Linked DNA regions of Homo sapiens: regions 1 and 3 are each linked to region 2. Evidence: fine-mapped expression QTL. A gene starts in region 2. Each other region holds a variant in brackets. All regions are shown on one strand. Distances are between the middles of the regions.

Region 1 (7,291 bases), 380 kb before region 2:
AGGTTGATTTAATTGCTAGCAATTGTATATTCCTTAAGGTCTTTATGGCCTTTTGTCAGCATGGCATGGCAAGACAAGAAAAATTTTAAAACCACTGGTTATGTAGAGTGTTTTTTGGGTATGGAACCATATCTTGTGACTTAGCCCCGGAAGAGTCACCTGTGACACCATGATTGCAGGCTCTTTGGGGTTTGGACTGAAGTCTGGAAACTGCTGCATATGCTACATCAGAAATTTTAAATATAGTACCAGGTCTTAAGCAAATATAGAAAGTGAAAACAGCAGAATTCTAACAAGAATTAAGTGTTCTGATAGGCCAGTGGAAATGGGGAGCAAGGAACATTCACTGTTTCAGGGAACCAGCTTTAGGGACTGAGGTATCAAAAAGAAGGGATTGGATATACAAGTGGACAGGTTGGAGAGATCTCTAACCTGGGTAGAGGGAAAATAGTTAGAAGCACCCAGTTGTTAGGTTAGGGCTAGAATGAGCCTCATGTAGAACTCATCGGTGTTTGACTAGGGCTTCTTAACTCTTCTCTTCCCCCCTCAGCTCCCAAGTTTCAGACTGCCCAAAGCCTGGAAAAAGAGCTAAATCTAAAATTAGCTGAAGTTGCTGAGGATGCAACTTGGAGGTTGGGGCACAGACTTAGACAAGCCTTACGTCTTCCTGCTCCAGACAGTGCTAAGTAAGGGGGAAATATTTTCCTAAGATAGATGGGCACATAACCCCATTAACTCCCAAAGGAGTATGAAAGGGAATATGTGCTTATTTCACAATAATCTTTTATTGCAAAATTTACTGATGCAGAAGCAGAAACTAATGCAGGTGGCAAGTGAGAGGAATGTAACTTTGTTTCCCAGCATTTAGAAGTCCGTGAACCCAAGTGTAGACCAAGTGAACCTTTAAAGACAACACATGGGTATTACTTGGTCAGGGTAACAGACCATATAAGTAGGTAGTCAAATAATTCTAACTAGAAAACCTGAAAAAATAAATTGCTGAAAAAGGAGGTTGAATGAACAGTAATCATTCCTGTGTGATTAGTAAACTTTTAAGACCCTGTTATGGTGAATTGTATCACTGTACTTTTCAAGTAGACAACATTCAATTAGACACCTGCCTAAGGAGCATATTTTTCATTGACTTTTGATTATCAAAAATTGAGATCTTTCTCATGCCCAGACTATTGCCAAGGAAACAAGAGTAACAGTTTCCACTCAGCAGCCTGGCTAAATTCCAGAACCCCATGTGACTGGGCAGACTCCTGGAGTCTTTCTGATGACCAATATCAGAGATGCCTTGTCTGTGGCCTATTGTGTTTTCCTGTATAAATGCTTCATGGGAAAATTTATACTCTAGATCAAATAAATAAGAGCGAATCCTAATCACCTTTTATTGAACACTTAATAAATACCAGACAGTATGCCAAGCCTCAAACATAAATGATCTTATTTAATTCTTACGAATCTTAGGGACAAACCGTTTTCACTCATGTTGTAGAGGAAGCTAGCCTAAGAGAGTTCAAACAACTTACCCCAACTCACCCAGTTACTAAGTTTCAGAATCAGAATTTGAACTCAAGGAGTTTGATGTTTATGCCCATGATTTTAATCATTATATTCTACTGCCTTTTCTCTTCCCGTTTTTGAAATTAGCTCAGAACTAAAACCATTTTCGAAATATTAGAATTGTTTACTGGTGTAATTCTCTGTACAAAAATCTTACAAAGCAAGTGTAAACAATGGAATAAATGAAAGCTTCAAGTGAATATACACAATGAAAATTATATATGAAAATATTAAGTTCATTTATGCTATATCAAAAAAGAGACTTGAACAAAAACTATTATTTGGGATATTTATTGAAATGCCTCTTAAAAGAGAATTTGCCTCTTATCAGTTTGAAAAACTTTATTTTTTTTTTAACTTTTAGGTTTGGAGGCACATGTGAAGGTTTTTTACATATGTAAACATGTGTTACAGGGGTTTGTTGTAGATATTATTTCATCACCCAGATATTAAGCCCAGTATCCAATAGTTATCTTTTCTGCTCCTTTCTCTCCTCGCATCCTCCCCCTTCAAGTAGACCCAGTGTCTGTTATTTCCTTCTTGTGTTTATAGGTTCTTATAATTTAGCTATAATTAGCAAAATTATATTTTATCATTTAGCTACCACTTATAAGTAAGAACATGTGGTATTTGGTTTTCTGTAACTGTGTTATTTTTCTAAGAATAATAGCCTCCAGCTCCATCCATGTTCCTGCAAAAGACATGACCTTGTTCTTTTTTATGGCTGCATAGTATTCCATGGTGTATATGTACCATATTTTCTTTATGCAATCTGTCATTGATGGGCATTTAGGTTGATTCCTTGTCTCTGCTGTTGTGAATAATGCTGCAGTAAACATCCACATGCATGTGTCTTTATGGCAAAATGATTTATCTTCCTCTGGGTATATACCCAGTAATGGGATTGCTGGGTCCAATGGTAGCTCTGCTGTTGAGCTCTTTGTAGCGAGGAATTGCCATACTGCTTTCCACAATGGTTGAACTAATTTACACTCCCACCAACAGTGTATAAGTGTTCCCTTTTCTCCACAACCTCACAAGTATCTGTTATATTTTGACTTTTTAATAATAGCCTTTCTGACTGGTGTGAGATGGTATCTCCTTGTGGTTCTGATTTGCATTTCTCTAATGATGAGTGATATTGAGCTTTTTTTCCATATGCTTGTTGGCTGCATGTATGTCTTCTTTTGAGAAGTGTCTGTTTGTGTCCTTTGCCCACTTTTTAATGGGGTTGTTTGTTTTTTCTTGTAAATTTAAGTTCCTTATGGATGCTGGATATTACACCTTTGTCAGATGCATAGTTTGAAAATATTTTCTCCATTCTGTAGGTTGTCTGTTTACTCTGTGGACAGTTTCTTTTGCTGTGTCTGCAGAAGCTCTTCAGTTTAATTAGATCCCACTTGTCAATTTTTGCTTTCATAGCAATTGCTTTTGGCATCTTTGTCATGAAATCTTTGCTTGTTCCTATGTCCAGGATGGTATTGCCTAGGTTGTCTTCCAGGGTTTTCATAGTTTTGGGTTTTACAGTTAAGTCTTTATCCATCTTGAGTTGATTTTTGTATATAATGTAAGGAAGGGGTCCAGTTTCTATCTTCTGCATATGGATAGACAGTTTTCCCACCACCATTTATTGAATAGGGAGTCTTTTTCCCCGTTGCTTGTTTTTGTCAGCTTTGTTGAAGATCAGATGGTCATAGATGTGCAGCCTTATTCCTGGGCTCTCTATTCTGTTCCATTGGTCTATGTGCCTGTTTTAGTACCAGT[A/TTTAGTACCAGTA]CTATGCTGTTTTGGGTACTGTAGACTTGCAGGAATTATTTTCTACCCTGCTTGAATTTTAAAATAGCTCTCAAGGGACCTGATCCATAAAGATTTGCATCTATAATCTATAGAGTTGGAGCAGAATAATCATTTGATAAAAATGAAAGATGTCCCCATTTTTAGTTTCTCTAACGTTCAAGTAATCTTAAAGTTAAGGCAGATGTAAGGATAAGATGATTGGGGAATATCATGAAAATAGCCACCAAATACTGGACTACGTGAAATAGGACCAAAAGGGGTTAACATTGCCATGGACTGAACATGTTTGTACCCTGCAAAATTCATATGTTGAAACCTAATCCCCAGTGTGATGGTATTAGAAGATGGGGCCTTCGGGAGGTGGTTAGGTCATGAGGATAGAGTACTCATGATTGGGATTAATGACCTTATAAGGGGTTGAAGATACCAGATTTCTCCCCTTCCACCATGTAAGGACATATTAAGAAGGCACCATCTATGAACCAAGAAGAGGGCCCTTACCAGACACCATGAATGGCTGGCACCTTAATCTTAGATTCTCAGCCTCCAGAACTATGAGAAATAAATTTCTGTTGTTTATAAGCCACCCAGGTTATGGTATTTTGTTACAGAAGCCCAAATGGACTAAGACAAACATTAATTTTGTTTTTATATTTTCATAGAGAAATGATGGGATAACTGTAATATCCAGTTGTGTGTGGCTTTTTTTTCTCCCCTGTGGAAGAGGGGCCCTGGGCAGAACTTTATATTCTTGCACTTTTCAAGGACTTCAACCTTCATCTACACCACTATTCTAATTATTTTTATCACCCAAGCAGGTAGCTGAGTGTGCAGCACCCATCCATCCAGGCAGGTGGGAGCCCAAAGCACTCCTCACTAGGGTTGTAGAGCATGTGAGTATCTAGTCACTTGGCCAGAGCTTTTGACTAGGAGACCCAGTCAGACTGACTGACACTCCTCCTGCATCACTTTAGGGCTTCTTTTTTTTTTTCTTTTTCTGGTCTCTTTTGGAAAACCTGCTTCGGCAAATTCTTGTTGTTTTAATAGAGAATAGATTTCTTCTGCCTATTTAGTTCAGACCATTATTCTCTCTCCTATCTTTTTCAGACTTTGCACTCTTAAGTTTCTCTCATCCAGCACTTCCCTCTTCTTCCTTTCCACGTAACTTCAAGTGTGAGGGTGACAGAAAGACTGCAGATTTTGTGGAGACAGAGTCAAACCATGCCAAACTTCCATCTTCCTCCTCCTTCACCTTCTCCTTTTTGGGGATTGTAATGGGATCCATGGTATCACTGAGCTTTGCTACAAGGTGGAGTTGCCATTGATTATAGTGTTTAACTAGGGAGACTCAGAAAGGGAAACATACTTGCTTTTTCCTAGCATAGGGTTTTGTTTCCATTAAGCTTGAGAATGAATGAAGTTTACAGGAAGCTAGAAGTTTCACTGAGTCAATCCCTGTTCGCTTTATTCATCCAGGGCTTTGAAGTCATTAACACATAAAGTAGTGCTGAATTATAAATCTTGTCAGTAACACTAAGTATTTTCAGTTGTACATTATACTGTTGCTCAAGGAGAAGTAAATACAAAAATAAACAAACAGTAGAGGGCAGAATCAGGATTTATAAATGGAGTGGCTTTGTGATTCTGCTCTTCATAATCTGACTCTGGGTATGGGATTTGGATACGTAAATCTTATTAGAGCACCAATTTCCCCTCCTTCCCTCACCCCTCACCCCAGTTCAACAAAAATTAATTTTGTAAAAAAAAAAAATCAGTGTTGTAATGATCACACATGTTCATTCCCATTTAGTCTGCCTAAAGTTATGCCAGGAATTCTGTTCCAGGAAGTACAGATTTACAACATCAGCTGTCAACTTTTTTGTTTCCCATGTTCCAGTCTCTTTGAGAGCATCAGGCTACCAAGGCAGAGAATTTGTGATTTGTTTGTTCACTTATTCTTTAATTACCAGAAACATTGGAGGCTAGAGTACAAAAATGAATAAAACATAGTCCATACTCAAAAAATATATAATTCAAAGAGGCTTTTCATTCATAAGTTCTTTCAGTGTTTACTGATGATGTTCTTCAGGTGTTCTCACTTGCAGAATGCTGTGGCCATGCATCAGAATCACCTGAGACGTTACTAAAAATTAGCATTGCGTATGCTCCACCCCAGACCTACTGAATCGGAATCTCTAAGCATCTGTTCTGTTTTAAAGCCTGATAGGTAATTTTAATGTTATTGCTAGAGTGTTGAGAAACAAATTTACTGTGGAAAGTACAGTGATTGAATATGTCTGCACCTCAATCCTATATAGCCTTGTGTTTTAGTTACCATGTCAGCATATGTCAGCCTGTGTCTCCACCTCAATCCTGTATAAGCTTGTATTTTAGTTACCATATTTTCTCTGTACTGTTCCCTGTTATGTTCTGTTTACTAATCCTAGCCACTAGAATACCTATAGGTTTAATAGCTTTAACACTGAAATTATCCTGGGGCAGGTAAAATAAAGTTGCTGCTAAACACCAGAGTTAGTTTATTGGTTCAGACATCACCCATTCTGGTTCCTATTGCTGCTTTCTTATTGTGACTGCAAGGTCGAAATCCTGCACAGCTATTTGTGGTTCTGGTTTTTTTTTTTCCTTGAAGCAAAAGGATGCAGCAGTGTTATCCGAAGGGCTTTAAACAGTGAACCAAATGTAAGTTAAATATGGTGGCAGGAGCCATTCCATAAAGGTTACAAACTTGTTTTAGGAGTGAAGTGGGGACTTTTTTGGCTTGGTGCCAAAATGGAACTGGCATTGTTTTTTCAATTCAGCCTGCCTGGTATTTCTATCATAGCTTTGCTAGTTGATCAGTTTCCTCTCACTATGGCCTCTTATTCATTCCTTCATTTGGCAAATATTTGTTGAATACCTACTTATGTCAGGCACTGTTAAAGCAGTGGATGTAGTGGTAAATAAAATAGAAATGGTTTAGTCTATTTCTTTGAGCCTTCCTCAGAGAAAATGTCACTTCTTTGTCAATGTCTTTACAGCCTTTATCCTGAGACCAGGAGAGAAAAATTACCTAAATATCCAGTCTAGTTTAAAGCTTAAACTGATCCAGTAATTCAGACAGTCCCTTGGGGTAGTGTCATAAATGATGGCCATAGGTGTCTCCTGGTCTCAGGGGCAAGGTCCCTCATCCACTTTAGTGCTGCTTGTTCTGCTGTCATTTAGGGCTGAAATATGTGGCTGTAGGCTGCTTGCTCAGAACCCAGTAGCACTCTGGCTACCTGGGCCTCCCCCTGACTTCTGGTTGCACCCCCCTGAGCCTCTGGTGTGTCTGCCATCCAGTTCATCCTCTTATAATCTCTCAGTATCTGTGCCTTATGGGAACTATGGGGGCTCAGGAAACCTGAACCTCAGACACTTCTCTACCAGACCTGCTACAACGCTGAGTCACTGTTTCTGTGCACCATGTTGTGGTGGAGGCTGCCTGAGAGTTGATCTTCTCTAGACTCCCAAACATGAAGAAGGAGTGGGCACTTGGCCTTTGATTTTATCCTCACTTATTTAACAAACTGATTTATCTCCAGGCTGAGGAAATCAGTGTTGCTTTGCTGCACTTCCATCTCGCATAGTCTGGAAGTCTGGAAGGACTTTTTCCTACATTATATCCTTCTCTTGCCATAGACCTAGCATGGCAGTTATAGTTGGATGGAATATCTCCTCTACACTCCCTTTTGTATGGGCATGTTGGTTGATATAGAAAAGGGAGAAAAAGTATTTTGGAAAAGTCTTTAAGATGACTTTTCGCTTATAAACTACTGTTTTCCTGCATGTCATAGATTATATTTTTCTCTGCTTGTTCATTCTCCCTTCCTTTTCCGTGTGATATGCAACACCTCCTATGAGAGGAGTACACATCCTTGCCCCATTGATGTTAGGCTTA
Region 2 (7,234 bases):
TATTTTATTGAGGATTTTTGCATCAATGTTCATCAAGGATATTGGTCTAAAATTCTCTTTTTTGGTTGTGTTTCTGCCCGGCTTTGGTATCAGGATGATGCTGGCCTCATAAAATGAGTTAGGAAGGATTCCCTCTTTTTCTATTGATTGGAATAGTTTCAGAAGGAATGGTACCAGTTCCTCCTTGTACCTCTGGTAGAATTTGGCTGTGAATCCATCTGGTCCTGGACTCTTTTTCGTTGGTAAGCTATTGATTATTGCCACAATTTCAGCTCCTGTTATTGGTCTATTCAGAGATTCAACTTCTTCCTGGTTTAGTCTTGGGAGAGTGTATGTGTCGAGGAATTTATCCATTTCTTCTAGATTTTCTGGTTTATTTGCGTAGACGTGTTTGTAGTATTCTCTGATGGTAGTTTGTATTTCTGTGGGATTGGTGGTGATATCCCTTTTATCATTTTTTATTGCATCTATTTGATTCTTCTCTCTTTTTTTCTTTATTAGTCTTGCTAGCGGTCTATCAATTTTGTTGATCCTTTCAAAAAACCAGCTCCTGGATTCGTTAATTTTTTGAAGGGTTTTTTGTGTCTCTATTTCCTTCAGTTCTGCTCTGATTTTAGTTATTTCTTGCCTTCTGCTAGCTTTTGAATGTGTTTGCTTTTGCTTTTCTAGTTCTTTTAATTGTGATGTTAGGGTGTCAATTTTGGATCTTTCCTGCTTTCTCTTGTGGGCATTTAGTGCTATAAATTTCCCTCTACACACTGCTTTGAATGTGTCCCAGAGATTCTGGTATGTTGTGTCTTTGTTCTCGTTGGTTTCAAAGAACATCTTTATTTCTGCCTTCATTTCGTTATGTACCCAGTAGTCATTCAGGAGCAGGTTGTTCAGTTTCCATGTAGTTGAGCGGTTTTGAGTGAGATTCTTAATCCTGAGTTCTAGTTTGATTGCACTGTGGTCTGAGAGATAGTTTGTTATAATTTCTGTTCTTTTACATTTGCTGAGGAGAGCTTTACTTCCAACTATGTGGCCAATTTTGGAATAGGTGTGGTGTGGTGCTGAAAAAAACGTATATTCTGTTGATTTGGGGTGGAGAGTTCTGTAGATGTCTATTAGGTCCGCTTGGTGGAGAGCTGAGTTCAATTCCTGGGTATTCTTGTTGACTTTCTGTCTCGTTGATCTGTCTAATGTTGACAGTGGGGTGTTAAAGTCTCCCATTATTAATGTGTGGGAGTCTAAGTCTCTTTGTAGGTCACTCAGGACTTGCTTTATGAATCTGGGTGCTCCTGTATTGGGTGCATATATATTTAGGATAGTTAGCTCTTCTTGTTGAATTGATCAACAAGGCCTTAATTACTTAATTGATCATTAAGTAATGGCCTTCGTCTCTTTTGATCTTTGTTGGTTTAAAGTCTGTTTTATCAGAGACTAGGATTGCAACCCCTGCCTTTTTTTGTTTTCCATTTGCTTGGTAGATCTTCCTCCATCCTTTTATTTTGAGCCTATGTGTGTCTCTGCACGTGAGATGGGTTTCCTGAATACAGCACACTGATGGGTCTTGACTCTTTATCCAATTTGCCAGTCTGTGTCTTTTAATTGGAGCATTTAGTCCATTTACATTTAAAGTTAATATTGTTATGTGTGAATTTGATCCTGTCATTATGATGTTAGCTGGTTATTTTGCTCATTAGTTGATGCAGTTTCTTCCTAGTCTCGATGGTCTTTACATTTTGGCATGATTTTGCAGCGGCTGGTACCGTTTGTTCCTGTCCATGTTTAGTGCTTCCTTCAGGAGCTCTTTTAGGGCAGGCCTGGTGGTGACAAAATCTCTCAGCATTTGCTTGTCTGTAAAGTATTTTATTTCTCCTTCACTTATGAAGCTTAATTTGGCTGGATATGAAATTCTGGGTTGAAAATTCTTTTCTTTAAGAATGTTGAATATTGGCCCCCACTCTCTTCTGGCTTGTAGAGTTTATGCCGAGAGATCTGCTGTTAGCCTGATGGGCTTCCCTTTCAGGGTAACCCACCTTTCTCTCTGGCTGCCCTTAACATTTTTTCCTTCATTTCAACTTTGGTGAATCTGACAATTATGTGTCTTGGTGTTGCTCTTCTCGAGGAGTATCTTTGTGGCATTCTCTGTATTTCCTGAATCTGAATGTTGGCCTGCCTTGCTAGATTGGGGAAGTTCTCCTGGATAATATCCTGTAGAGTGTTTTCCAACTTGGTTCCATTCTCCCCATCACTTTCAGGTACACCAGTCAGACGTAGATTTGGTCTTTTCACATAGTCCCATATTTCTTGGAGGCTTTGCTCATTTCTTTTTATTCTTTTTTCTCTAAACTTCCCTTCTCGCTTCATTTCATTCATTTCATCTTCCATCGCTGATACCCTTTCTTCCAGTTGATTGCATCGGCTCCTGAGGCTTCTGCATTCTTCACGTAGTTCTTGAGCCTTGGCTTTCAGCTCCATCAGCTCCTTTAAGCACTTCTCTGTATTGGTTATTGTAGTTATACATTCTTCTAAATTTTTTTCAAAGTTTTCAACTTCTTTGCCTTTGGTTTGAATGTCCTCCCGTAGCTCAGAGTAATTTGATCGTCTGAAGCCTTCTTCTCTCAGCTCGTCAAAGTCATTCTCCGTCCAGCTTTGTTCCGTTGCTGGTGAGGAACTGTGTTCCTTTGGAGGAGGAGAGGTGCTCTGCTTTTTAGAGTTTGCAGTTTTTCTGCTCTGTTTTTTCCCCATCTTTGTGGTTCTATCTACTTTTGGTTTTCGATGATGGTGATGTACAGATGGGTTTTTGGTGTGGACGTCCTTTCTGTTTGTTAGTTTTCCTTCTAACAGACAGGACCCTCAGCTGCAGGTCTGTTGGAGTACCTGGCCGTGTGAGGTGTCAGTCTGCCCCTGCTGGGGGTTGCCTCCCAGTTAGGCTGCTTGGGGGTCAGGGGTCAGGGACCCACTTGAGGAGGCAGTCTGGCCGTTCTCAGATCTCCAGCTGCGTGCTAGGAGAACCACTGCTCTCTTCAAAGCTGTCAGACAGGGACATTTAAGTCTGCAGAGGTTACTGCTGTCTTTTTGTTTGTCTGTGCCCTGCCCCCAGAGGTGGAGCCTACAGAGGCAGGCAGGCCTCCTTGAGCTGTGGTGGGCTCCACCCAGTTCGAGCTTCCCGGCTGCTTTGTTTACCTAAGCAAGCCTGGGCAATGGCAGGCACCCCTCCCCCAGCCTCGCTGCCGCCTTGCAGTTTGATCTCAGACTGCTGTGCTAGCAATCAGCGAGACTCCGTGGGTGTAGGACCCTCCGAGCCAGGTGCGGGATATAATCTCCTGGTGCGCTGTTTTTTAAGCCCGTCGGAAAAGCGAAGTTTTCGGGTGGGAGTGACCCGATTTTCCAGGTGCTGTCTGTCACCACTTTCTTTGACTAGGAAAGGGAACTCCCTGACCCCTTGCGCTTCCCGAGTGAGGCAATGCCTCGCCCTGCTTCGGCTCGTGCACAGTGCGCGCACCCACTGACCTGCGCCCACTGTCTGGCACTCCCTATTGAGATGAACCGGGTACCTCAGATGGAAATGCAGAAATCACCCGTCTTCTGCGTCACTCATGCTGGGAGCTGTCGACTGGAGCTGTTCCTATTCGGAGTATTGACATTTTAAAGAAATCCTAATTAAAATGGACAATATGGACAGATTATGATGGAATTATTCTTGTTCAGGTACTCTTTTCGTTTGGACAGAGGTATCTGCCGGTACTGAGATGTAAGTGATCAGCTGAAGGGAGAAACTGTACACCATGTGACGGACAAATTGCCTGCCTCAAGAAAGCACTTAGGACCATTCTGCAGCCACTCAGTGACCTTGGCTAGAAACCAATGGCTGTGCGGCGTGAGGTAAGATGAAAGGAAATACCCTAGGGATCCAGGACTTCTGCATTTGGTGAAACGTCCGCTTCCACTACAAGGCTTTGGGATGTCTAGTCTGTAGACTGGAGTAACATTAATACTGACTCATGCAGAAACAATATAGCTACATATTGAACTGGGGGAAGGGGTGGCAAAACCCTCTGCAAATAGGAAGTGCCACAAGAGCACCGAGATAAGGATGAGGCCCTGCGTGAGCGCAGCCTTCGGGTTTTCCTTGGGCCGATCAGCACCGACTCCACCGCTCTCGGCGAGGCACCTCCAGCTCCCGGGAATGAGAAATGTGCCCGCCACAGCAGGGGCCCACAGGAATGAAGGGCGCCGGCGCTGCGTAGGCCCAACAGTTCCCCGCGCCCTCGCCCCCGGCCCCGGCCCAGCCCGGCCCTTCTTCCCCCGCCTTGGCAGAGTGGCGTCATCAGGGGGCGAAAAACCCGACGAGCATGAGGCCCGCAGATCCCGTGTAGGAGATGCGACTCTCGAAGTTGTCGTCCGTGAGTTCGGAGGCAGCGGCGAGGCGGGCCGCGGCAAGAAGCAGCGCCACACCCGGGAACAGCGCTAGGCGGCGGAGGCGCATGGCGGCGAGGTGGGGTGGGGACGGCCGGAAGGGTCGCGGCTCGGCTGGGACTGCGGAGGTCGGGCGCGCGACCACAAACCGGCTGCCTGCGCTGGCGCGTCTGGCCCAGGGGACCTGCAGCCGGAGGTCCCAACCCCCAAACCCGGCTCGGGCCGCTGTGTGGCAGCCGCTGATTGGCTGCGCGTCGCCTTCGTCCGGCGGGCGGGACCAGCTGGTTACCGCTGAGTGGCCGGAGAGCGGGGCGGGGCGGGGCCTAGGCGGCGAGTGGCTGGGCGAGCGTTGCTCCGCATGGTCCTGGGCTGTGGGTAGGGGCTAGGGCCGGGTCCCGGGGTGAGCCGAAACCTGGGGGTCGAGCGGGGCGGGGAATGGGGCGCAGTGAGGCTGGGAGCCGGCCCTGAGCTCGTCTTGCATAGGGGTAGCCAGGCTCGGGGCACCTGAGCTGGAGGCGGAAGCGTGAAATAAGGACTGAGTGGGCAAAGAGAACCTGGGCTGAGGTGAGGCCCAGAAGCGAGAATGGAGGAGAGAAGGAGCTAGCCCCCGAAGGAGTGTTGGAGTGGACACACTTGGGACGGGACCCATTTTCAAAATGTCAGGCTTTGGCATTTTGTCCAATTTCTCTGCACTTGGTTTCTCTTGCGTGAGCAGGCCAAGACCTCCCCCAACTCCACCTCATTGCCCGATTGTCTCAGGCACAGGTGGGACCCAGATTCTTTGTCCAGCCCCGGGCCCCTGCCCTTGTGGCTGCTCCTTTTTCTTGCGGTGTTTTTGTTTGTTTTGTTTTGTTTTTAATGAGTTTTAATTAGAAATGCCATCACAAAGTGAAGATGCCTGGCCGCTTGGTCGACTGTGCAATGTCTTTACCACTTAGCCCCTTTTGTTTCAAAACACCCTGAGTCCTAGTAGAATGTTTGTTCTTCCCAACTGCTCCTAGTTCGTAGATGTGGGTACATTAAGGAATCTTAAGGGTAAAGAGGGTGGGGAGGAGGGGACAGAAAACCTGTAATCCTTGGTGCAGCTCCAAGAATGAAATGACACTTGATGCTTACATTTTCTTAGCAGACATGGCCGCTTACCAACAAGAAGAGCAGATGCAGCTTCCCCGAGCTGATGCCATTCGTTCACGTCTCATCGATACTTTCTCTCTCATTGAGCATTTGCAAGGCTTGAGCCAAGCTGTGCCGCGGCACACTATCAGGGAGTTACTTGGTCAGCAGCCTATTTCTTCACTAATTTAAATTTAAGACTCCTATCCACATCCTCTACATTTAAGAGTGGAAAATTCTGGGGAGGTTTAGTTGCTGGTTTACCAAACTTGATAAATCAAGGGCTTGTAAATAAAACTGAAGAGATAGAATCCACGTCTTTCACTTTTAGGCCTAGGATAGCCACTAGCCATGGATGATTGGGAAGAGTTTCTGTCAAAGACTCTTAAAACTTTGAGAGTGAGCCTGCTGCTTTTGTGGGCATGGACAGTGTTGGTCATAAGCAATACATTTGCTCTCACTCCAAACAGAATTCTTAGTTGCTGTGAGAAGAGAAGGACTAGCAGTAAGGCATTAGGGGAACCCATTACCTGACCAGTATCCCTGCCCCCAACCCTACCTGGTCTATTTTGTTTGTATTTATCCACTATCCCTTTTTAATTTTTGTTGTAGATCCTTCCCGCCAGAAGAAACTTGTATTGGGAGATCAACACCAGCTAGTGCGTTTCTCTATAAAGCCTCAGCGTATAGAACAGATTTCACATGCCCAGAGGCTGTTGAGCAGGCTTCATGTGCGCTGCAGTCAGAGGCCACCTCTTTCTTTGTGGGCCGGATGGGTCCTTGAGTGTATCCTTTCATGTCACTCATTTTTATCCTGGCTGTTGATCATCTGCCTAATGACTTATTTTTTGCTCCCCATACTCCACTGTCTCATTTTCACTGCTTATGTTATTGCTCTTATTATTTCAGCTGCATAAATCAGAAAGAACTCCACTCTGTACATTTCCTTAAGAGACAACAGGTCCTCTCTTCAAAAACTTCATCATCTTCCTGGTCTTTTTGAATACGATCATATTGATGGTTGAAATAGGTGAGAACTGACCTTGTATGAAAGAGGAAGTGAGGCCGGGCACGCCGGCTCACACGTGTAATCCTAGCACTTTGGGAGGCCGGGGCGTGTGGATTGCCGGAGCTCAGGAGTTGGAGACCAGCCTGGGCAACATGGTGAAACCCTGTCTCTACTAAAAAATACAAAAAATTAGCCGGGCTTGGTAGCACGCGCTTGTAGTCCCAGCTACTTGGGAGGCTGAGGCAGGAGAATCGCTTAAACCCAGGAGGCGTAGGTTTCAGTGAGCCGAGATTGTGCCACTGCATTTCAGCCTGGGCGACAGAGTACAACTCTGTCTCAAAAAAAAAAAAAAGAAAAAGAAAAAGAGGAAGTGGGTAGGAGTAATTTTTTTTTCTAAATTGATCATTTTACATTTTTGAATGTCATTTGAAATGTGACATTTATATTAAGGACAATTATATTAAGCCTCCTGGAGTAGAATTTATGCAACTGCTAAAATCTAGAAATATTCGCTGGGCACGGTAGCTCACACCTGTAATCTCAGCACTTTGGGAGGCCGAGGTGGTTGAATCACTTGAGGTCAGGAATTCAAGACCAGCCTAGCCAACATGTTGAAACCCCATCTGTACTAAAAATAGAAAAAATTAGCTGGGCGTGGTGGTGGGCACCTGTAATCCCAGCTACTCAGTAGGCTGAGGCAGGAGGACG
Region 3 (7,291 bases), 200 kb before region 2:
AAACTCCACCTCCCGGGTTCAAGCGATTCTCCTGCCTCAGCGTCCCCAGTAGCTGGGACTACAGGTGCCTGCCACCGCGCCTGGCTAATTTTTGTATTTTTAGTAGAGATGGGGTTTCACCATGTTGGCCAGGCTGGTCTCAAATTCCTGACCTCAGGTGATCCACCCGCCTCAGCCTCCCAAAGTTCTGGGATTACAGGGGTGAGCCACCGCACCCGGTGCCATTTGTGTTTCTTTAAAGAAATGTTTATTCAGATCCTTTGCCCATTTTTTAATTGGGTTAGCTTTTTTAATTAAGCTATAGGAGTTCTCCACCTATTGTTTTAAAGTCAAGCTTATTGAAATGTAAGTTACAGCCAGGCGCGGTGGCTCATGCCTGTAATACCAGCACTTTGGAAGGCCAAGGTGGGCAGATCACTTGAGCTCAGGAGTTTGAGACCAGCCTGGGCAACATGGCAAAACACCGTCTCTACTAAAAATACAAAAATTAGCCAAGCATGGTGACACATGACTATAGTTCCAGCTACTCAGGAGGCTTAGGTGGGAGGATCACGTGAGCCTGGGAGGCAGAGGCTGCGGTGAGCCGAGATCAAGCCACTTCACTCCAGCTGGAGTGACAGAGTGAGACCCCCATCTCAAAAAATAAAAATAAGTAAGGCCAGGCGTGGTGGCTCACACCTGTAATCCCAAGACTTTGGGAGGCCAAGGTGGGTGGATCACCTGAGGTCAGGAGTTCAAGACCAGCCTGGCCAACATGGGGAAACCCTGTCTCTACTAAAAATACAAAAATTAGCCAGGTGTGGTGGCACGTGCCTGTAATCCCAGCTACTCAGGAGGATGAGGCAGGAGAATTGCTTGAACCCGGGAGGTGGAAGTTGCAGTGAGCCAAGATTGCACTGCTGCACTGCAGCCTGGGCAACAAGAGCGAGACTCTGTTTCAAAAATAAATATATAAAGAAAGAATAGAAACACAAATGTTCATCAACTGATGAACAGATGAATAAAATGTGGAATACCCATACAATGGCATATTATGCAGCCATAAAAAGGAATGAAGTACTGATACACGGCTACAACATGGATGAACTTTGAATACATTTTGTTAAAGAAACCAGTCACAAAAGACCACAAATTGTATGATTTCATTTATATGAAATGTCCAGAAGAGGCAAATCTGACCACACACAGTGGCTCACGCTGTAATCCCAGCACTTTGGGAGGCTGAGGCAGGTGGATTACAAGGTCAGGAGTTCGAGACCAGCCTGGTCAACATGGTGAAACCCCGTCCCTACTAAAAATACAAAAATTAGCTTGGCATGGTGGCATGCGCCTGTAGTCCCAGCTACTCAGGAGGCTGAGACAGGAGAATCACTTGAACCTGGGAGGCGGAGCTTGCAGTGAGCCAAGATCGCACCACTGCACTCCAGCCTGGGCGACAGAGTGAGACTCCATCTCTACAACAACAACAACGACGACAACAACAACAACAACAAATTACCCGGGCGTGATGATGGGTGCCTGTAATCCCTGCTACTCAGGAGGCTGAGGCAGAAGAATTGCTTGAACCTGGGAGGCAGAAGTTGCAGTGAGCCGAGATCTCGCCACTGCACTCCAGCCTAGGTGACGAGAGTAAAACTCCGTCTCAAAAAAAATAAAATAAAAAAGTTCAACTTATAAGACTTATCTTATTGAGGCAATCTGATACAGTTAAGCAAATCTGAAAGTTCATTTCAAATGATATGTTTGTTTTAAACATTAAGTAGAAGATGTCTTATTTTGAGAGAGGGTCTCACTCTGTCACCCAGGCTGAAGTGCAATGATGTATGTGATCACGGCTTTACTACAGCCTCAATCTCCTGGGCTCAAGCAATCCTCACACCTCAGCCTCCTGAGTAGCTGTGACTACAGGCACATGCCACCACACCAAGCTAATTTTTTTTAGAGACAAGGTCTTACTATGTTGCCCAGGCTGATCTTGAACTCCTGGGCTCAAGTGATTCTCCCACCTCAGCCTCCTGAGTAGCTGAGACTACAGGCACACACCACCAAGCTCAGCTAATATTTTTTATTTTCTGTAGAGACAAGGTCTCGCCATGTTGCCCAGGCTGGTCTGGAACTCCTGGCCTGAAGTGAGTCTCCCACCTTGGCTTCCCAAAGTGCTGAGATTACAAGCATGAGCCACCACACCCAGCTAAATACAAGTCTTATGCCTAAAAACAGAAGAGTAAGTTATTTTAGTTAAAAGCTTTGGGAGAGAAAAAAAAAAGAAATTTAACAAGCGCAAACACATACTATGTGCCAGGCTCTCTTCTAAGTACTTTATCTGCATAAGCTCATTAAATTCTCATGACAACCCTGTAAGGTCAGTCCTGTTAAATCCCATTTCACAGCTAAGGAAAGTGAGGCACAACAAGGTTAAGCAACTTGTCAAGGTCATACAACTAGTAACAGATGATCTGGGATTTGAACTTAGGCAGCGTAGTTCTCAAAGTCCTTCTGCTATACCACTTCTCCCAATTGGTATAATAATTATTCATGTGGCATTTCGAAGAATCTAGAATATCATCTGAAGTCAGCATGTAAACACATTAACATTTACCTCTTCAAAAATAGCCCTGGAAAAATCCCCACAGCGTAACGTGCCATCATAGCTCAGTGACAGTATGTGGGCCGGATTGGCGGGTGAGAAGTAAAGACAGCTAACTGGCTGACTATGGGGATGAAAAACATAAACTCCATCTTCTTTAGGTTGCTGGGTCTGGAAGAGAGTTGCGGGAAAGGGGAGAGAGAAAAAAACTAGTGAAAAATAGTGATTTTTGCTATGCTATTATGTCATTAAAGAATTTACACTGGATTATATTCAGTCTTTTCTTAGTCTATAATTGTAACCACTCTCCCCTTCACAAAGTCAGAATGAGAAACTTTATCTTGTCATTAACTTTTTTCTAGTTTTCAATCCAACAATACCAAGTCACATTAACAGTGACCAGCTTTCTGTAACTAACAAAATAGTTTATATATTACTGTCAGTTTATAAAATCCTCAGGAAATGATAAATCTACTCTATTTCACACATGGTATAATTGCTAACTAAAACAGTATCAGTACCTTACCACTTTGCTTCTGCAGCAGGCTTCTTCTGTATAATATTAACTTACTCATTCTCAGTGTAATTTTCGTAAGGTATTTGGTCCTGGGACAAAGATAATGGTTTTAAACATACTTTGTCCTCTAAATGCACCATAAAAATGGCCGGGCGCGGTGGCTCACGCCTGTAATCCTAGCACTTTGGGAGGCCAAGGCGGGCGGATCACGAGGTCAGGAGATCGAGACCATCCTGGCTAACATGGTGAAACCCCATCTCTACTAAAAATACAAAAAACTAGCCGGGCGTGGTGGCCGGCACCTGTAGTCCCATCTACTCGGGAGGCTGAGGCAGGAGAATGGCATGAATCCGGGAGGTGGAGCTTGCAGTGAGCCGACATCTCACCACTGCACTCCAGCCTGGGTGACAGAGCAAGACTCCGTCTCAAAAAATAAAATAAAATAAAATAAAATAAAATAAAATAAAA[TAAAAA/A]AATAACACCATAAAAATGCATGTATTTGAATTTCCATATTAATATACCTACTCCTAAGGACTATCCTTTCCACAACTGGATTGCCAGCTCCTGAGAAGTCGCTTTTCAGAACAAGTTATGTTTCTATGCCATATGGCATATTATGAACCAAAGAATCACCTCTAAATCTGGCTTACTCTACTCTGAAATGGTCAAGCATTTTTGTTTTCTTTTTTATTTTAAATTTTAAAATGGAGAGAAGTATTCTTTAAAAGAAAAAATAAGAGAAAAAATTATTATAATCACACATACTCTTCCTGTTACCAGAGTTAGAAACTACTGACATATTTGTTTATAGCATTTGTTTTCTAGAAAAATAAAATTTTCTCTTGGTATAAAGAACTCAAACAATGCAGAAATGTACAAAGATGGAAGTTTTAAAAAAATCACTCCAGGCCAGGCGCGGTGGCTCACCTGTAATCCCAGCACTTTGGGAGGCTGAGGTGGGTGGATCACGAGGTCAGGAATTCAAGACCAGCCTGGCCAAGATGGTGAAACCCCGTCTCTACTAAAAATACAAAAATTAGCCGGGCGTGGTGGCAGACACCTGTAATTCCAGCTACTCAGGAGGCTGAGGCAGAGAATTGCTTGAACCGGGGAGGCAGAGGTTGCAGTGAGCCAAGATTGCACCACTGAACTCCAGCCTGGGCGACAAAGCGAGACTCCGTCTCAAAAAAAAAAATCATTCCAAATCTAAAATTAACCAAAATTATCATTGAAACACTGAGATTATAGACATCTTTATAGTTAAATTTAATGTGATTTAAAACGGCATATACAGCATGGTCCTTTTTTAAAATTTCTTCGCTATCATTCTATCTGTATAGGTACACATAAATCTGTCAAAATAATATAAGAAAATGAAGCTAAAGGAATTTTTGAATTTCAAGTATTTACAGAGACATTATCTTCTACAATGGCAAAAGTATAAAACAAAAAGCAATTGTAGTCATTATGCTTTTTATTTTTTAAACTGTTAATTTTAGATAATTTATATTGATTTGAGAATATTATTCTCACCCTTCCTCCAACAGTCTTTTTTTTTTTTTTTTTGAGATGAAGTCTCACTCTGTCACCCAGGCTTGAGTGCAGTGGCACGATCTCAGCTCACTGCAACCTCCACCTCCCAGGTTCAAGCGATTCTCCTGTCTCAGCCTCCTGAGTCGCTGGGATTACAGGCACCCACCACCATGCTTGGCTAATTTTTGTATTTTTAGTGGAGACGGGGTTTCACCATGTTGAGACAGCAGGTAATCTGAAATGCAGTTTTTTTGGCCTCAAAAAAAAAAAAAAAAAAGTCTCAACTCTGTCGCCCAGGCTGGAGTGCAGTGGTGCAATGCCGGCTCACTGCAACCTCTGCCTCCCGGGTTCAAGCAATTCTCCTGCCTTAGTTTCCCAAGTGGCTGGGATTACAGGTGCACATCACCATACCCAGCTAATTTTGTATTTTTAGTAGAGACAGGGTTTCACCATGTTAGTCAGGCTGATCTTGAACTCGACCTCAGGTGATTCACCTGCCTCAGCCTCCCAAAGTGTTGGGATTACAGGCATGAGCCACTGCGCCCGGCCTTGTTCATTATTTTATACCAGGATTCATACCACCTACTTGTATGGCGGTGGAGGGTGTTACCACTCCCGTGGGCCAAGAAAACTTCCTTTGAAGACAATCAGTTCTACTACTCACTGTCCCTACTTCTTCTATTTTTCCTGATTTCACCCCAGCAACTATTTCCCCATTCCTCATTGAAAAGAGGAAAAATCGGAATACCCAATGTGCTTCTCTCTACTTTTGATAATATAGAAAATTCTCAGGATTTGGTCAATTTACCAGTATAGATTCTGCACACGGGGCAGGGCAGAAGCTAAATTATGCTGTCTCCTAGCTCTGCTACAGATTTGTTTCTCTCCTTGGTAGCTAGTTTTTGAAGTATACTACATTAGGTTCTGCTTCTTTCTTATTGCAGTAAGTGAATTTTTTTTCTTTTTTTGAGATAGGGTCTCACTCTGTCAATCCAGCCTGGAGTACAGTGACACAATCATGGCTCACTGCAGCCTCAACCGCCTTGAGCTCAGGTGATATTCCCAGCTCAACTTCCTGAGTAGCTGGGACTAATGGCACACACCACTACATCCAGTTTTTTTTTTGTTTGTTTGTTTTTTTTAAGAGACAGGCATCTCACTATGTCACCTAGGCAGGTCTCAAATTAGTGGGCTTAAGCCATCCTCCTGCCTTGACTTCCCAAAGCCCTGGAATTACAAGCATGAGCCACTGCACCCAGCCAGCATGAGGGATCTTATAGGGATGATGAAAATGTTCTAAAACCAGACTATGATAATTAAACAACTAAGTAAACTTATTAAAAACCACTGAGGCCAGGTGCAGTGGCTCACGCCTGTAATCGCAGCTCTGGGAGGCCGAAGCAGGTGAAAATCACTTGAGGTCAGGAGTTCCAGATCAGCCTGGCCAACATGGAGAAGCCTCATCTCTACAAAAAATACAAAAATTAGGCTGGGCACGGTGACTCATTCGTGTAAACCCAGCACTTTGGGAGGCCGAGGCGGGTGGATTACAAGGTCAGGAGTTCAAGACCAGCCTGGCCAAGATGGTGAAACCCCATCTCTACTAAAAAAACAAAAAAATTAGCCAGGTGTGGTAGCGGACGCCTGTAATCCCAGCCACTTGGGAGGCTGAGGCAGAGAACTGCTTGAACCCAGGAGGCGGAGGCTGCAGTGAGCAGAGATCACGCCACTGCATGCCAGCCTGGGCAACAGAGCAAGACTCGTCTCAAAAAAAAAAAAATTAGCCAGGTGTGGCAGCGAGCGCCTATAATCCCAGCTACTCAGGAGGCTGAGGCACGAGAATCACCTGAACCCAGGAGGCAGAGATTGCAGTGAGCCAGGATCACACCACAGCACTCCAGCCTGGGTGACAGAGCAAGATTCCCATCTCAAAAAAAAAGAAAAAAAAGCATTGAATTTTACATTTTTTAAATAGGATTTTATGATAGGTAAATTATTACCTCAATGAAGCCATTTTTTAAAAAAACTGGGGAAATTGTGAGCACAGGATAGACAAGGTAATATTGCTTTTAGACTTGTTAAATCTGTTAATGAGATTGCCAAATGTCCTGGAAAATTAGGTTGATGGAGATACTGGACTACAGAGACCTAGTAATACAGATTTTTTTTTTTTTTTTTTTTTTTTGAGGTGGTGTTTTGCTCTTGTTTCCCAGGCTGGAGTGCAATGGCGCCATCTCGGCTCACTGCAACCTCCGTCTCCTGTGTTCAAGCAAATCTCCTGCCTCAGCCTCCCAAGTAGCTGGGATTACAGGCATGTGCCACCATGCCCGGCTAATTTTGTATCTTTAGTAGAGATGGGATTTCATCATGTTGTTCAGGCTGGTCTTGAACTCCAGACCTCAGGTGATCCGCCAAACCTTGGCATCCCAAAGTGCTGGGATCACAGGTGTGAGCCACCGCGTCCGGCTGTAATACAGATTTTTGGAGTCATCATGAAAGATATGAAAAAAGGATTTTTATGTATGTCTTAAATCTATACAGATCAACTCATCCAAAAAAAAACCTTCATTTAATCATGCTAATTTTCAATTTTTCCTTTGCAAAATTCTTCAAAAAGTAGTCTCAGATGGGTGTGGTGGCTCACACCTGTAATC

What was found. PIP is the estimated chance that this variant, and not a neighbour inherited with it, causes the effect. A credible set is the group of variants that fine-mapping cannot tell apart.
Region 1: its variant is the best candidate, but not a certain one, in a credible set for the expression of CATSPER2 in transverse colon (GTEx, PIP 0.83).
Region 3: its variant is the best candidate, but not a certain one, in a credible set for the expression of CATSPER2 in whole blood (INTERVAL, PIP 0.56).

What each region holds. Positions count from the first base shown.
Region 1 is chr15:44,028,028-44,035,318 of GRCh38, reverse strand. All of the region lies in intron 1 of FRMD5 (FERM domain containing 5), which reads left to right. Among named protein-coding and RNA genes, the nearest start is that of FRMD5, 160 kb to the left of the region's middle. The variant A/TTTAGTACCAGTA (reference allele first, on the strand shown) is at 3,334.
Region 2 is chr15:43,646,363-43,653,596 of GRCh38, reverse strand. It overlaps CATSPER2 (cation channel sperm associated 2), which reads left to right and starts at 4,753. Exons shown (of 13, transcript NM_172095.4): 1 at 4,753-4,968; 2 at 5,534-5,680; 3 at 6,130-6,303; 4 at 6,479-6,547. The coding sequence starts at 5,536. It also overlaps the pseudogene PPIP5K1P1-CATSPER2 and the pseudogene PDIA3P2.
Region 3 is chr15:43,846,554-43,853,844 of GRCh38, reverse strand. It overlaps WDR76 (WD repeat domain 76), which reads right to left. Exons shown (of 13, transcript NM_024908.4): 9 at 2,600-2,758. Among named protein-coding and RNA genes, the nearest start is that of WDR76, 23 kb to the right of the region's middle. The variant TAAAAA/A (reference allele first, on the strand shown) is at 3,573.